Regions from separate parts of the Homo sapiens genome. Here all the other regions are linked to region 3. The links come from fine-mapping of genetic effects on gene expression. A gene starts in region 3. Each other region holds a variant in brackets. All regions are shown on one strand. Distances are from middle to middle.

Region 1 (7,165 bases), 79 kb before region 3:
GTTAAATTGGTATTTATTTCACTGTAATAAAAATGTTATTCAAGATAATTAAATGGCTGATTAAATAACTCATTGTTAGCCCATATACATAATTTAATTAACAGGATACCCCATATTATTAAGATCACACACTGTTGCAATACCCTGTATGCTCACTAGATGGCAAGAGAGTGCATATGCTTGGCTTGGCTTTAATTGCAACATTTTTGCCTCCTTTTTTTAACTCATGAAAATGAAAGCTTAAGCTGAACTTTCAAATTAAATCATGTCCATTGTAAAAGTATTTTTGAAATGCAATAATATGTTCTGTACTGAGTCCCAGCAATACAGGAAGAAGACTCACATTCGGAGCCTGGTGGTGGTGTTACTACCACAGTGCCACAAAGAAAAGCCCATTCCGTCGTTTTCTATTAATGTGTCTTAAAATGCAAATGAAAGCCCGCCAGTGGAACAGGGAACTTTCCTCCCTGGGGAGTTTTAGCCCCATGATTAGTGAAACGTCAGTCCTGTGAATTTATAATTGATTCTTCATGTCTTTGCATAAGAATGTTCCGGCAAGCTGGTGACTTTCAGGTGACGCTGACAATGCCCTCAGCAGGTGGAGGCCTACTGCGGACCGCCCAGACCGCCAGGTGGGGGTGTCAGGGCTGGCCACAGGCAGCACAGGGAGAATGGCCTGTTTTGGGAGGCAGAGGGGTCAGGCCGGGTGCTTCGGGGTCACCTGGTTGCTGGCCAAGCCTTGGGTGGTGAAGAGGCCACCAGGGCAGGGGAGCAGGAGGGCCTACTTTTCACTCCCACTCAGAGGTGGGCAAGCCCTGCTGCAGAAGCCAGAGGGGGCTGGAGAAGGGAAGGGGGCGGGTGGGAGGAGGGTGAGGACCAGAACAAAGCACCTGTGCGGGCCACCTGACCTCAGTGGGACTATCTCAGGAGTGGCAGCGGAAGAAAAACCTGCTCTGAGCAAAACCACAGAACTTGAAAACCGTAATTTCCTTTATCCAGTGTGTTGAAGGAGAGGAGAGAGCTGTGTGAATGTCAGAGCTGGGAGGGATTTCAGAGATCTCAGATCTATGCCCTTATTTTAAGGAGGAGGCTGAGGCTTGCAGTAGTGCGAGGCTGCGTCACGGTCGCTTGCTACCGAGGATGAACAGGACGCCGAGTCTCCTTGTGCGTCCAGCCTGACGTAGACGCAGAAGCGCAAAGGCAGCGGCCCCGCACTGGGCACTGGGGCTGCGCTAAAGCCGGGGTGCGGGCTGCACGTCTTCCTGATGGAATGCCTGAGCCACTGATGGCTGTGAATCTATACCCGCACCCAGCCTGCTCGGAGCAGTGCCCGGGGTCACAGTCACCTCTGGGGATGCTGCAGGGTCCGTGCATAAAGCAGGGCTGCCACTTCAGGGTTCATGACAGAGCCCGTGAGCACAGTTCTCCGCTGGTAAATTGCCTGCTCTGCCTTGCTGAAAATCAAGCTCAGGAATGACCTTGGCCCCATGAAAGCCGCATGGGTGTGGGAGTTAAGGTCGCTGTCTTCGAACAGCCCAGGAGGTGTTACGAGCACTGCTCCGGAGCGCCTGCTGCTAGCTGATTCCTGCAGTAGCTCTCAGTACGCACAGCTGGCTGCAGGGACACTAGCTCCACACAGGGCACCCTGATGCCCAGTGTGGGAGGTGAGCCAGGTGTGGGGTGCGTTCCAAACAAAGAGAGGAGCCAAAAAACACCGTTGCACAGGCTGGCGAGAGCCAGGAGACACGGAAAAACAGATGACAGCCTCAGTTCAGCTCCTTGATTTCTAAGCTGTTTCCCTGCGGGCTGAGAGCTCTGGGGTGACGTCCTAAGAAGGTCTTGTGGGGAAGCCTGTCTTCAGGTGTTGTAAGCATCAATCATAAAATCAAAACCATGAGGTGAAAAAAACACCCTCCACGAAGATAGGGAGAACAAAGGACACCTTCTGGGGATGGAGTTCAGAGAAAAATGGGGGAAAATGAACAATACTTTTAATTAAATCATTTAGACCCACATTTCAATAATGAAATCTGATCATCTAAATTCTACATTCTGTTGAAATTTCTTGCAGTAGAAATAAAGTACATATAGCCCCATAATGTGTCACTGGGCTCCCTGTTAAGCCAGTACTTAGCTGGCTTCTCTGCACGGCCGGTCCCTGCCAGCATCTATTATACCAGCGGCTCCCTCGCGGCTCCCACTGACCCCGCTCTTCCAGATCACATGGCAGCCCTGCTTGGCCACCCACGTACCTTCATCAGGAGCAGACAGTTTGCCATGGAGTACATCACCCGGCCCAGACGTGACCTCCACAGCCGGATAGAGGCTACAAGGTAAGAGCAGCCTGTAAGTGCACAAATAAATTCGAGGCTCTTTCTAGCCCTCAATTACTGGGTCCTGTGAATTCTAATTTAACTTTAAAAGATCCCTCTTGTTAACACCACTGGATTTCGGCCTGGAATGCTGAATATGCTGCAGGCTGCACTGAGGCAGAAAATACAGCACTCGCATTGGGACCAGAGGTGGCTTTGGGAAGAGACCCTCGGCATCAGAGAACCAGGAGGGTGGCTGCTCAGCATCAGCCCAGACACAAGGCCAAATGGTCCGACCGGGGGCCCCGTTTCCAAAGCCAGAACCCTGAGAAAAGGAGCAAAGCTGACAGAAACGACGACATTGCCTGCAGCTCGACAAGGCTGGGAGGGCCACTGGCCAGGGTGGCCGCCAGCCTCTCGCAGTTGACCTATGGGAGGCCACCCGGAGGGCCCCACCCATGCCCAGCCATGAGGCCTCCCCTGCCTCCCGACCATGGGCTGGTGCAGACGCCGGTTCCCCCAAGGAGTGCTACACCGTGTTCCAGAACTCAAGTGGCTGGCACATTCCGCTGGGGACTCGGCACTCCCCTGCAGCTGGCTTCCTTCCCTAGCACCTGCTGCCACACGGTGGCTGACCGCGACCCTGAGCC[T/C]GGCCCGTCCCTCCCTGCTCTCCCCTGCACATTATTTAGTTAGCAGCCATCCCTCCACTGATTTCAAACCTTCAGGGCCCATCTCTTCTAGTAGTTTCCAAACTGGCTTTGTGGCCTTCTTGGGGTCTGCAAAGGTCCCCTGGGAGCTGCCCTGGGGGGAGGGTGGGCTGACCAATGGTGCCTGTTTATCATTGGGATGACCAGGAGGAAGGCGCAGGTTGAGGACTGAGCTAATCTGAAATGAACATATTATTGACAGGCAGGCTGAGGTCCACAGAGGCCAGGGACGCTTCCATCTGACCCCTTGTCCAGCGCTCCTTGCGCCTGTGCTGTGTCTACTTCCTCGAAGAAAAGTCCACACTTCCAACTGCAAAGTGCCAAGATGCCACCCTGGGCAGCACCAGGCCCTGGGAGTGCTCCTGGCCTCCCTCATCGCTGGGCACTGGGAGCCGTGTGTCCCTGGCTGCCTCTGAGGCTGTGATTTAGGAGGCTGAAGCTGACCCACCGCTGGCACCAAGCGTCCACTGTGAGATAACAATCACCTAGAAATGATGTGCATTTACGGTGTGCTTCAGGAGAACACACAGAAACTTAATTGCTAGAATTAAAAACTTAACTCACTTTGCCTTTCAGCAATGAAAAACACATTAGCTGCTTATGTTCCCCTTATACCATTATTTTTGTGAAAAGAAATTCTGAATATCTTCTCTTAATGGATGTAAAATATGGATTGTCTCAATGAATTGCATATTTATTCTGATGATCTTTGCAGATTCCTTTCCTGCTCTAAATCCTCCCCTACCCTCCTTATAAATGCTCATGGGTGTGACCTTCTGTTAGATTTCCAGGAACAGCCTTCTGCTCTCTGATAACTACATGCTCATTCCCACCAAAGCAGGAGCCCAACCAGGGGTAAAATGACTGGTTGCCAAGAATGCTGAATGGGACATCCATGAGCAGACAGTGCCGTCTCTCCTTCAGACCTTGTTACTCTACCTGCAATTAAATTACTGAAAAGAGAGTGCACAAGTGCACACACATGCACACACCACACCCACACCACATGCCACAGCATGCACACCCAACATCCACACACCACACACATACACACCTCACACACGTTCAGCTCACACCAGCCAGCAGTTCCCCAGAAACCCCAGCACACCTGCGGAAACGGAGACCACCCGATCTTGACTTGGGCTGCACATCGAGTAGGACAGAAGCTGTGGGAAGGAGGAGATGACCAGGCCACCAGGCCTGTGGGGAGATGCTGCCACAAGGAGTGAGGGAGTGAGGCTAGGGTGGGGCTACCTGGGAGGGAGCACTCAGGCCAGGTTTCCAAGCATGATCGGAAGCTTGCTCCTGGCTAACGCACTCCCCGAGCTGCAGCTGGCATGGCCTCACTGTGCAGATCAGCTCATGTCAACCCACCCAGTCCCCCAAGGGGTTTCCAATGCTCCAGGGAACTGCCCAGGTCCCTCAGCCTGCCCCAGGCTCTGGGCCTTCCTCTCCAGCTCCTCCTGAAGCACCCTCCCGAGCCTCTGTCCCCGACGCAGAGGCCTCTGTCCCCGACGCAGAGGCCTCTCTCCCCGACGCAGAGGCCCCTCTGGGCCCCTTCGGCTGGGCTGGGCTCCTTCCTCGCGCCCACTCAGACCACTCAGCGTGGCAGGTTCCGGGCCGTGTGCTTTTGTGGTGAAGGCGTGTCTTCTCCCCGGGCGCAGGGTTCGGGTCTGAGGCTGCACGTTGCACCCACAGCATCACCCAGTGATGTGCTTGGCTTCCCCAAGAAAGGAGTGAGTTGCAAATGCACGAGTGGACACGTGCAGTGCTGACTACAGAAAGGAAAGGAGAAGGAGAGGAAGCGAGAGGCTTTGGGCTCAGTCTGTCAGTGATGTCCGAGAAGCATCTAGTCAGCAAAGTCCGGCCGACCCACCTTGTCTGCCCTCCTGAGTCACGCTGCTCATGCCGCCGTCTTCTGCTAAGCCTTGCTCCAAATTGGCCAGGATCTGCAATCATTCCAAATGAGAAGGACAAAATCATGGGAACCAATTTTTGTCTAAGACTTTGTTATAATATAATCTCAGTACAGCAAATTTCTCTGGATGAAAACAATTTGTCAAGGGATGTTCACACATACTTTTAAAAAATATTAAAACATTTGATATTTTATTTATTTTAAATTGCAACTTTATTTTAGATTCAGGAGGTATGTGTGCAGGTTACCTGGGTATACTGGGTGATGCTGAGGTTGGGGTACGATTGAAGCCATCACCCAGGTAGTCAGCATGGGACCCAACAGATCATTTTTCAGCTCTTCCTCCCATCCCACCCTCCCCCCACTGGTAGTCTCTGGTCTATTTTTTGTCCATGTGAATCCAATGTTTAGCTTCTACTTACATGTGAAAACATTCACTATTTGGTTTTCTGTTTCTGTGTTAATTCACTTAGGATAATGGCCTCCAGCTGTATCCATGTTGCTGCAAACAACATGATTTGGTTCTTTTTTTACGGCTGCGTAGTATTCCACAGTGTATGTGCACCATCTTTTCCTTATCCCGTTCGCCCACAGGGACACACTGTAAACATCACCAAGTCCCTATGGCGTGGGGCGACAGTGAATGGGGAGGGACTCTGCTCCCAGCTGATGGTGAAAGTGGTGTTTATGATGTTCTTGAAGTATCTGCAGACATCATACATGGGGAATATGTTTTTTAAGAAAAGCATCAAGCCTGTAATCCCAACACTTCTGGGATTGAGCGGTGGCTCAAGCCTGTAATCCCAACACCTTGGGAGGCCGAGGCAGGTGGGTCACTTGAGCCCAGGAGTTAGAGACCAGCTGGGGCAACATGGCAAAACCCCATCTCTACAAAAATACAAAACATTAGCTGGGCATGGTGGTGTGCGCCTGTGGTCCCAGCTACCTGGGAGGCTGAGGTGGGAGGATCACCTGAGCCTGGGAGGTCAAGGCTGCAGTGACCAGGGACTGCACCACTGCACTCCAGGCTGGGTGACAGAATGAGACCCTGTCTTTAAAAAAAAAGCATGGAGAATGTCACATGAGACTGATGATGACCTTTTGTGAAGATGTCAGTCTCATTCCTACAGGGCACCGTGCTTCTGGCCTTTTTAACGTACCAAATACGTTTTGTGCAACGTGTCGCTTCCCGGTTTTACCACTTGCTTTTTAACTTTTGGGCACTTTTTTTTGTGTTTTCTTCTCTGAAAGCAAAGCTGCTGTAGCCGCTGTGATCTGGGTAGAGAATTTAGATCGTCTTGCCAGTTAACACTCCCCACACGGCCCACCCCAGGAGGTGAGGATTTCCGCTGGTCCGACTCCCCGGTCTCTACCTGCTGAGGATGAAAGCAGCCTCTCCTCACCTGCAAGGGACACTACTTAACAGAAACTGGAGAACAATTTGCTGCCAACACAAAGGATGTTTCCTCTTAACCGTTATCTTGGGCTACCTCGATGACTCAGGGGACAAGGTGGGGTTCAAAATTGTAACCTTGAAAAGAATCTAGCCAGTTTAAACTAGGTAAAACGACATTCTTCAGTGAATCTGCCTTCTAATGAATGATCATAAGAACAGAAACTGACAAAAAGGAAAGGCTTGGTGTTACCATGAAATTAACTTCCCTCACCCCTTGTCCACAGTTGGTGGGAATGTACATCAGTGCAACCACTAGGGAGAACAGTTTGAGGTTTCTACAAAAAAACAAAAAATAGAGCTACCATACAACGCAGCAATCCATGCCTAGATATATACTCCAAAGAAAAGAAAGGAAATCAGTCTATCAGAGATCACTGCACACCCGTGTGTGCTGCAGCACTGTTCACAACAGCCAAGACTTGGAAGCAACCTAAGTGTCCATCAGCAGACAAGGGGATAAAGGAATTGCCATATATACACGATGGAGTACTCTTCGGCCATAAAAAAGAATGGTATCCTGTCATTTACAACAGCATGGATGGAACTGGAGGTCACTGTGTTAAGTGACATACGCCAGGCACAGAAAGACAAACATCGTATGTTCTCACTTATCTGTGGGAGCTAAACTTTAAACAACTGAACTCATGGAGATGGAGAGCAGGAGGATGGTTACCAGAGGCTGGGAACAGTAGTGGGGGATGGAGTGGGGATGGTAATGGGTACAAAAAAAAAATAGAACAAATAAGACCTAGTGTTTGCTAGTACAAGGGTG
Region 2 (7,165 bases), 64 kb before region 3:
TTTAGTATTTTTAGATTTTGCACTATGATATAGTTTGGACATTCATCCCCTCCAAATCTCATGTTGAAATGTGAGCTCCAGTGTTGGAGGTGGGGCCTGGTGGGGGGTGTTTGTGTCCTGGGGGTGGATCCCTCATGGGTGGCTTGGTACCGTCCCTATGGCAATGAATGAGTTCTGGCTCTGTTAGTTACCTTGGGATCTGATTGTCAAAAAAAGTCTGGTGCCTCCCTCCTCCTCCTCTTCTCTCTCGCTGTCTTTCTCACCATGTGACACACTTGCTTCCCCTTTGCTTTCTACTATGATTAAAAGCTTCCTGGCCAGGCGCAGTGGCTCATGCCTGTAATCCCAGTACTGTGGGAGGCCAAGGCGGGTGGATCATTTGAGGTCAGGAGTTTGAGGCTAGCCTGGCCACCATGGTGAAGCCCTGTCTCTACTAAAAATAGAAAAATTAGCCAGGTGTGGTGATGGGCGCCTGTAATCCTAGCTACTCAGGAGGCAAGGCAGGAGAATCGCTTGAACCTGGGAGGTGGAGGTTGCAGTGAGCCAATAGCGCCACTGCACTCCAGCCTGGGTGACAGAACGAGACTCCGCTTCAAGAAAAAAAAAAAAAGCTTCCTGAGGCCTCACTGGAAGCAGATGCTGACACTGTGCTTCTTGTACAGCCTGCAGGACTGTGAGCCAAAATAAACCTTTTCTTTATAAATGACTCACCCTCGGGTATTCCTTTATGGCAAAGCCAGATGGACTAATACACACTTCTTGAGTAAAGAAATTCTAGCATGAACACAAACTGTCCCTTTTTAAATTCTGGAGGATCATGATGTATTGGTGATGGCTGCAAACCTAAAAGGAACAGGTGAAACAAGCATCGTCTACCAAACTGTAAACTCACTGAGGGCGAGGCTGCGTTCTGTTGAGTCCCGAACTGCCAGTGTGCAGTACTCAGTAGGTGCTGAAAGGGCATTTGCTGCATGAACAAATGAACAAGCTCAGATAGAGCTGTTCTGGACAGCGTGGAGACGCATTGCTCCATGTCCCCGCAGTGCCCACTGTTCACATCCAGATAAAAACTGCTTCAGTTCAACACTGAACCAGCCGCAGAAAGGTCAAGAATGCCCACATGCGGCCATGAGCCCCTAACGTGCAAGGAAGTGAGCGAGGAAGTTGGCGACGGTGCTTCTTCTCCTGCCAAAGGTGGCGGACAGGCAAGGCTGACTATATGGTCATGCCCTGGGTCTTTCCCTCTTGGTCCAGGCATCCACCAGCTGTGCCACAGTGCAGCTCTCTCTCTCAAGAGGGTGTCAAATTTTAAGTCAGCACATAAAGGAACACATAGTAATTACATATTGAAATTAACGGTGAAAATCCTTTAAGGTGAAGACCAACACACACCTTTTCATAAATCCAACTGCTTGTTTTTCTTCCAGGATTAGAACGAATTGCGATTTCCTCATTTAAGTACCATAAGGAGTGTTGGCTTAGATTTGGATCATGCCATGGAAAAGATATGTATCTTTAAACATGAGAGATACCTGAAGTGCGGTTATGTATTCACAAGATGAGAGGCAGGTGGAACTGTAGACCAGCGGAGGGAACGAGAAGCATGAGTGGCTCTCTCACTGACGGTGGCCCCACGCCCAGTCAGCCTGAGAGAAACGTTCCTAGGATGTGACTGCACTAACCCTTCTCGTTTCTCCCCAACCCTACGATGCTTAGCTGTCAACTGCTGTTGCTTGGAAGCCCCCTCAAGAGTCTCAGGAGGGCCCAGCCCAGCAGAGCACAGGCTCGAGCCCATCTCCAGGCATCAGTCAGGGGGAAGGGGCAGGGCCCCATTCAGCACAGGGGTCTTCTGAGCAGATGTCAGTTGACCCCGGACAGCACTGTCCTTTCTTGGAGCAGAAATGCTGGTGCAGGGTGGAAGAGAGGACTCTCGGTCCTTCTGTCTTCAAACGGGACATGTTATAGTGATGAAGCCAGGCAAGTGATGAAGAGCATGGACTTTAGAGCCAGATGACTTGGGTTCAACTCATGTGATCCTAAGTTACCTAACCTATCTGTGCCTCAGTTTCCCCATCTGTAAATTGGGATAATAACATCTCCTTCATAGGGTTGTGATAAGGATTAAATGAGTTAATATTGGAACTCAGAGCAGTGGCTGCCTCATAATGAATGCAACAAAGGTGTCTGTCAGGTGGAGTAAGTGCAGGTGCCCAGAGCAGCGGTGTGGGAAGCTCCTGCTCTCTGCTCCACCGTCCCTGCTGCTTCATAGCTAGTGCTAAGTGGCTCCTCTCATCGTTACACTGTAGTATGCAGTTTTTCTTTTTTTTTGAGACAGAGTCTTGCTCTGTTGCCCAGACTGGAGTGCAGTGGCTTGATCTCGGCTTACTGCAACCTCAGCCTCCTGGGTTCAAGCGATTCTCATGCCTCAGCCTCCCAAGTAGCTGGGATTACAGGCATGAGCCCCTGTACCCAGCCTGTAGTATGCATTTAAGGAGCATAATTCTGAAATAGGACATAACAGGACCAGGAAAGCTGACTTGCAAAACTACTTCAACTAACTTGGCTTTTCCATCCACAAATCACCCTATGGCCCAGAATTTTCTCTCTCAAATACTATAAAGATTTCCTACAATGTGACATGGAGGATAATGAAAAATTCGTATAGTTTAGAAAGTCACTGATTTAGAACTTCTCAATTTCAAGTTATGTGCTTCCGATTTCTGTAAATAAAATTAAACCCCGTTTTAAGATTCAAGAAAAGTGTTGAAATGTAAAAAAGTTGGTAACATGATTCTCCATCAACTGATATAGTACAGAAAGCAAACAATTTTTCTTTTTATCTTTTAAGTTATGGTAATAAAAAAATGGAAGTGGGTACAAAGCCCAGGACAACAAGGGGCCTAGAAACGCCTGTTTTTTCTCCACAGATAAGGATAAAGAGGGCCCCTTCCTTCCTTACTAGGAACACTGTTAACACCATCATCTTGGAACTCCGCAAAACTTCTACCACAACAGTTAGGAAGTGAAAGGAGGAATCTGACAAGAAGAATCTTAGTTTTCCCAAAAATTATAATATGCTGCTGCTCCTAATAACTGCTTGTTGTTGTAGTTTTCAAAGTACTTCCGCATACCTTATGTCACTGAACCTATACAGGAACACTGTGACGTGGGTAGAAAGGCAGGATCATTCCTAATCTGAGATGAATACTCTATAACAACCTGTAGACAGCAAAGTCTCTGAGTCCCACATTTCTTCCCAATGTCAGTTAGTGTAATAACGTGCCACTTTGGTGGCTCCCACATTAACTGTGACTTCACAACCAAGAATGAGTCCGAAAACACTCCGACTCTGCCTTTGCAGTCAGGATCATGAGTGACAGTTGCCATAATGCAGAAGCACTTACTTGGATTTGAAAGCTTAAACCATGATTGCTTTCAGTACTGCTCCGGTACCTCTGTCTGCACGTGGCAGGTGCGTGTGGGCACTTGTGGGACACAGGGGTGGTCTGGCACACTGACCTTGAAGCTTCAGCTGGCAGCCTTGGCAAGAAAGATGTCTCTGCCTTTCAGCTTCCCATAGTACCAGGCAGTAAGAATTACAGGACTCAAGCTCTGCTAGAAACTCTTACCAT[C/A]CCTAAAAAAGATTTCAGCAAGAGACACGACTACCAGGCCACACAAACCGGGTCACCTAGCCTTCTGAAGGCAGAAGCAGCGATGGTGCATGGGGCAGGACGGGCAGGGAACAGCACGGGCATGTCCTGTGGGGAGGGCGTGGAGGGCATGTTCTCCCCGTGGCAGGGAAGAATGACAGCGCCACCTACCTTGCTGCAGACAGTCTTCACCTTGTGCAGTCTATCCAGCGACTCCTGTGGGTTCCCCAGGTACTGCTGAAGCTCCGCGTGCAAGATGCGCATCGAGAAGGGGACCATGGAGCCTGGAATCCAATCAGTGCTGAGTGAGTTTGTTTGCCATAACTGAGCACGCATTCATACTTGGCACACTTGAAGGAGGCGTCGCAGATGTCCCAGCAGAAGTGATGACAGATCCCTTTATTTCTTGTGAAGTATTTAACGGTGTCAACTATAAAATACATGCTGGTTTTCTCTATGGAGCTCTATGTATGTATGTCTCGACAATTATCAGAGGAGACAGGTGGATGACACCACAATTTCCAAAGCTACACTGCAATCATTTAGAAATGATCCCAAAATGAATGAAACAGTAGAGACCGCCAACCCCTCCTCCAATAAAAGAAAAACCAGAATGCTCAGATATTCTTTAATATTTCTTTAGTTTAGCAAGCTCGAATGGTAGGTTGCTTAGCTTGGGTTCCCCAGAAGGAGACCCTGAAGGGAGAAGCCGTAAGCCAGCCAGTGGTTCCGGAAGTGCTCCCGGGAAAACCAGTGGGGAGGAGGCGAAACTGAGCACAGGTGCGTCTCAGGCCTCGGCCCTGGGGATGGGCCTCCCACTGGATTCCATGTGGCCCTGGAGCCTGCGTTCCACCTCTGACAGGAGGCAAGGGAGCTGGACTTGAAAAATCCATCACCCAGAGCTGCCTGGCTTTGCGTGCGCTAAGAAGAGGAAGAAGCTCAGGAGAAACCCCCTTTATATCGTATCACCTGTGGCTGCATCATCTCTCAGGGTAAGGTCAACTTTTTGTTAATATTGTGTTCTCTTCTAATAGGATTTGGAATTTGATCTGTAGTATGTATACTAAGTAGATAACAATCATCAAAAAATCAAATAGCGTGCACTGATTATAAATGAGATAAAGAATAGAGAAATGCCAGAGGGCAATCACATAGATTCAGTAAAGTGCTTTTCAAAATAGGCCTAAGCGATGAATATTCGGATCTGGAATATAGTCTGAAAGATGGTGAGAAAACACGCGTATGACTTCTGCAAGCCACTTAATGTATCTGTGCCTCAATGCATCCATCTGTCTATTCATTAACCATTACTGAGAATGGGCCGTGACCACACTGAAATGAGCTTTATGTTTATGGTCTTTAATAACAAAGGTCCAAAAAGAAGACAGTCAAAATTAAGGAACACTATGGAAAACAGTTCTATTGTGATTATAAGCCTGGAGAAAAGAAAGGTAACAATTATTGAACTTAAAATGTTTAAACTTTCTTTTTTGATGCCACTAAATAATTTCTGTATCTCAAGAGAATATCTGGCCGAGCTTAAGTTACAGCCTGAGTCACTTCGGTTTTCTAGAAATAAACATTTCTAGACCATCCGCATAATGACACAGGGGACTGGCCTACAATTAAGTCATATGTAAGTCATGTCACTGTGGAACCGGCCCAACATGGTAAGTTATATGTAAGCCACGTCACTTCCATCCTTCTGTCTCAAGTAGAGAAGGGGCCAGAATCACTCCTGTGTGGTTTATCACTTACCACAAGGGAGAGAATATCTCAAGAACCCTTCAAGCTCTATAAGATAAGCACAGAAACAAACCTCTACTGGAAGTTCTCAAACCCAACTTGGGACTAGCTGTTAATACTCCGATCTCAGTTTACAGACTAGCTGTTAATACTCCGATCTCAACGTACAGACTAGCTGTTAATACTCCGATCTCAACGTACAGACTAGCTGTTAATACTCCGATCTCAATTTATAGACTAGCTGTTAATACTCCGATCTGGAATACAGTTTGGTGGATGGTGAGAAAACAGGCTGTGTGACTCCTGCCACTTCACCTGAGAAGGTGGCAGAAAGTTAGCTGCCCCTTATCCTGACAACTGCCCATGGACATGGGGGTGCTTCTGGATGTAAAAGCACATGTGAAAATATTTTGAACTAAGTGAAAATAAAAATACAACTTATCAAAATTTGTGGGATGCAGCAAAAGCAGTGCTGAGAGGAAGCTTTTTAGCATTAAATGCATATATTGGAAAAGAAAGATCTGAAACCAGCTTCACCTTTGAAAACTAGAAGGAAAGAAAGAGCAATATAAGCCTAAAGTAAGCAGTAGAGAAGAAAATAATAAAAATATTATTTTATTATAAGAAAATAAAATATTTTATTATAAGAAAATAATAAAAATATTATTGTATTATAATAAGAAAATAATAAAAATATAATAATAAAAATTAGAGCAGAAATCAGTGAAACTGAAAACAGGAAATCAATAGACAAAATCAACCAAACCAAAAACATATTCTTTGACAAGACCAATAAAACTCTGACAAGACCAATAAGTCTCTCCCCAGGCTAGTCAAAAAACAGAGAAGACATAAACAACTAGTACTAGAAGTGAAGGACTATTACTATGGATCCTATGAACAGTAAAAGAATAGTAAAGGAATATTATGAACAGCTCTATGTCCATACATTTGGTAACTTGGATAGAAAAAGAAAAACCTTTCCAAAAAGCAAGCCCCAGACCCAGATGGTCTCACTGTGAATTCCACCTAACATTTATGGAAGAAATGCTACCAGTTCTCTACAATCTCTTTCAGAAAACAGAAGCAGAGGAACGCTTTCTAACTTCTTATATGAGTCTGGCATTACCCTAATACCAAAACCAGACAAAGACGTTACAAGAAAAAAAAACTGTAGACCAATATGTCTCATGAACATAAATGCAAAAATCTTCAACAAAATTAGCAAACTAAATCTAAGAAAACTGAAGTCAACAAAAAATTAGCAACCAAATCCAACAATGTATAAAAAGAATTATGAACCATGACCAGACAGAATTTATTCCAGGTATGCAGGGGTGATCTAACATTCCAAAATCAATTAACATAATCTACCACATCAAACAGGCTAAAGAACAAAAATCATATCAATAGATGTAGAAAAGCATTTAACAAAATCCAGCACCAGCTCGTGATAAAAACTCTCAGCCAACTAGGAATAGAGGGAAACTTCCTCAACTTAATAAAGGACATCTACAAAACAACTGCAGCTAACAACAAACTTAAGAGTGAGAAACTCAGTGACTTCCCCCTAAGATCATGAATAAAGCAACAATGTTCCCTCTTATCTCTTCTACTGAACATTGTACTGGAAGTTCGAGCTAATGCAATGACAAGAAAACCAAAGGTACACAGACTGGGAAGAAGGAAATAAAACTACTTGTTTGCAATGACATAATTATAAAGAACAATCTCAAAGAACAAAAACACTTCTAAACTAGGAAGTGATT
Region 3 (5,000 bases):
GACCACGAGGTCAGGAGATCAAGACCATACCGGCTAACATAGTGAAATGCTGTCTCTATTAAAATACAAAAAATTAGCCAGGCATGGTGGCGGGCGCCTGTAGTCTCAGCTACTTGGGAGGCTGAGGCAGCAGAATCACTTGAACCCAGGAGGCGGAGGTTGCAGTGAGCCAAGATCGTGCCACTGCACTCCAGCCTGGCGGCAGAATAAGACTCCATCTCAAAAAAAAAAAAAAAAAAAAAAAGTGGAAATAAACACTGCCTGTAGACACAATAATAAGTAAATAAGTAGACTGTGGTATACTAGGACATAAAATATTAAAATAGTGGTGAAAATCAGTGAACTCTTCCATATCTAACATATAAATTATGTTTGGATCTCACAAATACAATTTTGCACAAAGAATGAGTAGAAAAATAAACAGCATGACTCTGTATATTCAAAAACATGTAAATTAAACAAAAGTGTTGAATCCAAACACTTTTTCTGTGTTAGGAACACAAACATATTTGGTCAAACTACAAAGAAAAGCCAGGATATAGTAACAGCCACTTTAGTGAGGGAGGGGTGGAAGGTGATGGCAGGAGAGCTTGACTGGGGAGGGACACACGGAAGTTTCAACGCACTGGGAAATGGTCCCCATCTTATGCTGGTAATGGAAGACTGGGTTGACTTGATCTTTAAATCTCACATGTGTGTTACGGGTAGTCTTTATAGTTCATAATTAAAAATGGAAAAACACAAGTATCTGTTCTTGATTTGTACGTGATAGAAATCTTTACTCCCTCCTATCATTGGCTTTATTTTTATTAAACTATAAATAGGATTTTAAGCTTACATAAGCTTACAGAAGCTTTACATCACAGTGCAGCAAAGAAATCTGACTTTCTCCTTGTCCAGTTGAGGGCTTTGCACAAGAATGTGATTAATTAATTGTTTAAAATTTTTTTAAATATTAAATTTAAGTAATTCTGTATTTGAGAAATAAAAAGTTCCTAACAACATTTAAAACTTGGTTTCTCAGGTTCATTTCCTGGACACAGACACTCTGTAAACATATCTTTTACCAAATTGCAGTCATGTAAAATTTCCTTCCATAAGGGCACGAGGGTGTGTAGTGGAAATCTAGGTGGCACGTATTAACAGAAGTCTCCATGTAATGAACACTCACTACAGATCAAGCATTTTACCTTATTATTTAATACTCATCCTAAACTTTTGAAGCATTATTATTACCTCCATCATACAGCAGAGAAGGCCAAGTGATTTGCCTAACATCACACTGACAGTACCTGATGGTGACAGGCTACCCACACAGCGCTTTCTGCCAATACTCTTTTCTTTGTGCTGGTCACCTCTCAGCTCCTCTTGCAAGGTTGCCAGGCAGGGGTGGGCAGAAAGAGCTCTGAAGGCAGTGTCTCAATAACTGTGTTGAGTCTTAGCTTCCCGACCAAGTGAAGTAACCTCTGAAAATCTTGATCTTTTAGATGGTACATCAGAATAAAGAGGATTAAATAGTGGCACCCCTGCATAGGCATCTTTTAAAGTGTGAAGAGCTGCACAGACACAAGCATAGTAATTATCATTTTAATGATAAAGCAGAGTGGCAACACCCAGTTTAGTAACTGTGAAGAAGATCCCATCAGATATCACAAAATGTAAGAACTGAATGAGTAACACTGTGTAATATTTCATTTGCTTTTCCCCTGTCCCTCTCCCACCCCAATCCCAAGACGGGACTGGCTCATTATCCGCCACTATCTTCTGAATTTGCGAACAGTGACTGAATCCAAAGACACCATATCTTCAAGTAGCCATTAAAAAGTACAAACCGTAGGTCCAAGAAAATTTTTCCTTGGGGCTACACTGTTTCGTAGTGAAGAGTGAAAAAATGACACGTTAAAACACATCTTTGACCCTAACGCTTTCTGTTGAATAAACGCTTTTTCGGTCTTCACAGTAAATATACTCTACAATTAGTATGTGTAGCAACAGCGGACGTTTACACAGTGACTCAAATGCTTTTACACTGCATTGCAGCCTCACAATGCTGAGTTTGGCAGGGCAGGTCATTAGTAACCTCTTTCCGCGGGAGGGTGAATTAAGTCTAAGGGAAGTTAAGGGGCTTGCTGGGGGCCTGGCTGGCACCAAGCCTGGAACTGGGGGTCTCGGGGACGCCTGGGCGCGCGCCAGCGGGTAGTTTCCCACACGCTTCGCAGCAGCTTCCCCTTCCCGCAAACTCCGCGGGCTGCAGAGACGCTTCCAGCCCTCTGCAGACGTGGAGAGCAAGGGCCGCGGCGACGTGGAGCCTGGCACAAGGCCCGCGGAGCACACACGCCCTTGGGTGGCAGGCGACCCCGCGCCCGGACCCCACGCCCACTCTAGCATCGGTCCCAGAGAAGGTCCCTCCGGGCTGAGGCCAAAGCCAGTGTGCTCCCTCCCCGAGGTGGCGCTACACGGTCCCATCCCCTCTGGACTGCCGAGGCCCTGATCCTCACCTGCCACCCGCCCACTGGAGCTGGGCTAAGGGGTCACCTGCGGCCGTGACCAAGGTCCGTGAGGAAGGTGACAGAAGCCGGGAATCGGAGAGGAACTGGCACCCCCGGGGAGCTCTGTACGCCTGCGCGTGCCGGGCCGCGGCGCGCCTAGTTCTGCTCAGGCCCGATGCAGGAACCCGAGGCCCTGCCCCCAGGCCGGAAATGGGGTTCGTTTCCGGTTCGTCTGCTGTGGGCGGGGCCTGGAGCCCTAGGTGTGAACGCGCACAGGCAACCAGGAGCCGGTAGTTGAGGGGAGCGGACCCTGTACTTGGAAATGGGAACGGAGACTCCACTCCACCTAGCCTGATTCTGTCACTCAGAGGCAATAGGCAAGCCTGTGGCAGATGGGGCGGGTGAAAGGGAGTCGCTTAGGCTATTTTTATTGACCAGCATATCCTAGAAATCAGTGTTTCTATGGATTTGTCTTTGTGTTTATCTGTATTTTGTAAGTTTCTTACCATGCACCTGCAGTACTTGTATAATAAAATTAATGATAAAGATATCAGTGATAGATGGGTGGGTTTAATCCCGAAGTATGAAGGCCCTCTTAGCTCCGCAAGTTAATATCGGCAAACAGAGTGGTTGAATAGGATGATTCTCATGTCTGGGCCATTGCTTACTTGATTTCTTTCTTTCTTGTTTTTGCTTACTTGATTTCTTTCTTTTCTTTTCTTTTTTTTTGACCGACTCTGGCTCTGTCGCCCAGGCTGGAGTGCAGTGGCGCGATCTCGGTTCACTGCAACCTCCGCCTCCCGGGTTCAAGCGATTCTCCTGCCTCAGCCTCCCGAGTAGCTGGGATTACAGGCGCGTGCCACCACGCTGGGCTAAGTTTCGTATTTTTAGTAGAGACGGGGTTTCACTGTGTTGGCCAGGCAGGTCTCGAACTGACCTTGTGATCCACCCTCCTCAGCCTCCCAAAATGCTGGGGTTACAAGCGTGAGCCACCGCGCCCGGCCTGCTCATTTGATTTCTCATGTAATCTCTAAAATTTCATACACTCAACAGATACTCATCCAGCCTTAACTCAATACCACGCGCCTTGCCCAACTGAGCAAAACGAGACCCAACCATTTCCGTCACGGAGATCAATAAAGGGTAGAGGGGAAAGCTAATCACAGAAATGGAGGAAAGGTGCGTGGTCCTGGAAGCCCCGGTGGAACCAGGCTAGCGGCGTGGTTCAGCTATGATGTATTTTGGAGTCCTTGCGATGCCATTTCTGCTGGCCCAAGGCCAGGGCAGGCACTTTGAGCAGGATGCGAAAGAGGGGCAGTCTCTCCACCACAAGTCTTTAGTCTTTGGAGACCTCTAGGAACCCCAGGGCCTTCCCTTCCGACTCCCATTCGGAGGCATATGCAGTCCAGGACCACCAGTGGTGCGGTGCCGGCTTTCATAACCCCATCCTTGGTAGTGCTTTCTTTGCCACACAGTGCTGGGCACCTGCAGAAATGCATTAGGCATGGCCCTGACTTAGGGCACCTTGGGCCGAACCTAAGGGAGTCAGCTCAGGTGCCCATCCTGGCTACCCAATGGACCAATGAGCGCTGCGACTGTGTTACTCAACTTTGCAGCGTCTCATCGGTAAAATGGAAGTGTAACAGCTTATTCATAGGGTTGGATGAAGCTCCTTATGGCAGTGCGTGTGAAGCGCTGGCCCAGCGCTCAGGAACGCCAAGTACATACAAATGACAATACATGGCGGCGCCCAACTACGGCGTGAGCGATTCTTAGATGCGATGGCTAGCTAAGGCTAATCGCCGCTTGCTCCCGACGGCCTGCGCTCGGAGCCGGCCTCCACCCACAGCCGGCCTCCGCGGCCCGCTCCGCCCACCAACTTATTTCCTCTGGGCCGGGTTCTCACCTCCAGGAGTCCCCGCGCTGAGAGCCCGGATGTGAGCCCAAGTGGCCATGCGCACAAGCCAGCGCCGCTGCCATTGGTCGCTGGTGAGGAACAGATTGATGACACATCCGAAAAATAGGAAGTGGCCACTACGGAAGCTGTTCTGGGCCAGAAAGACTTCCAGTTTGGAGTCGTTTGCTGCGGGGAGGGAATGAATGGGCGCTGGGAACACGCCCGCGAGGTGGGGACGCGCCGGCCGTAGCGAGGTCCTTAGCGTGTGAGTGGCCGGGGTCGGGTCGCTTCCCCGCAGCATGGAGGACGATGCACCAGTGATCTACGGGCTGGAGTTCCAGGTGGGTCACTGGGAGGGCGGCAGGTGCTGCTCGGCCTGGCTGTTGATAGCATGCGCGGTCCCATGGTGACTTCGGTTTGCAGATCTCCCACCAGCCCTGCAAGGACCCGTGTCTGTTCCCTAGTTCCCATTTTGCAGAGAAGTAAACTGAGGCTTTAGGAGGTTAAACGGTTGTACTGGATAACAGGGTTGGCCACAGCCGGCCTGCCTCCTTCCCCTTCACATCCTGTCCCGAACATGACTTCTGACCTGGAAGTTATCACTCACTTTGGTG

Evidence for each region.
Region 1: its variant is fine-mapped to the expression of TRAPPC12 in whole blood (TOPMed, PIP 0.92).
Region 2: its variant is fine-mapped to the expression of TRAPPC12 in whole blood (TOPMed, PIP above 0.99).

The regions. Positions count from the first base shown.
Region 1 is chr2:3,455,424-3,462,588 of GRCh38, reverse strand. TRAPPC12 (trafficking protein particle complex subunit 12) reads right to left here. Exons shown (of 12, transcript NM_016030.6): 7 at 4,896-4,968; 8 at 2,253-2,326. Among named protein-coding and RNA genes, the nearest start is that of TRAPPC12-AS1, 24 kb to the left of the region's middle. RefSeq lists enhancers at 1,034-1,901, 2,254-2,767. The variant T/C (reference allele first, on the strand shown) is at 2,963.
Region 2 is chr2:3,440,548-3,447,712 of GRCh38, reverse strand. TRAPPC12 (trafficking protein particle complex subunit 12) reads right to left here. Exons shown (of 12, transcript NM_016030.6): 6 at 3,822-3,934. Among named protein-coding and RNA genes, the nearest start is that of TRAPPC12-AS1, 39 kb to the left of the region's middle. The variant C/A (reference allele first, on the strand shown) is at 3,633.
Region 3 is chr2:3,377,375-3,382,374 of GRCh38, reverse strand. It overlaps TRAPPC12 (trafficking protein particle complex subunit 12), which reads right to left and starts at 2,681. Exons shown (of 12, transcript NM_016030.6): 1 at 2,499-2,681. EIPR1 (EARP complex and GARP complex interacting protein 1) reads left to right here and starts at 4,557. Exons shown (of 9, transcript NM_003310.5): 1 at 4,557-4,727. The coding sequence starts at 4,686. RefSeq lists silencers at 2,661-2,710, 4,274-4,333 and enhancers at 3,199-3,715, 3,716-4,232, 4,504-4,553, 4,574-4,753, 4,774-5,000.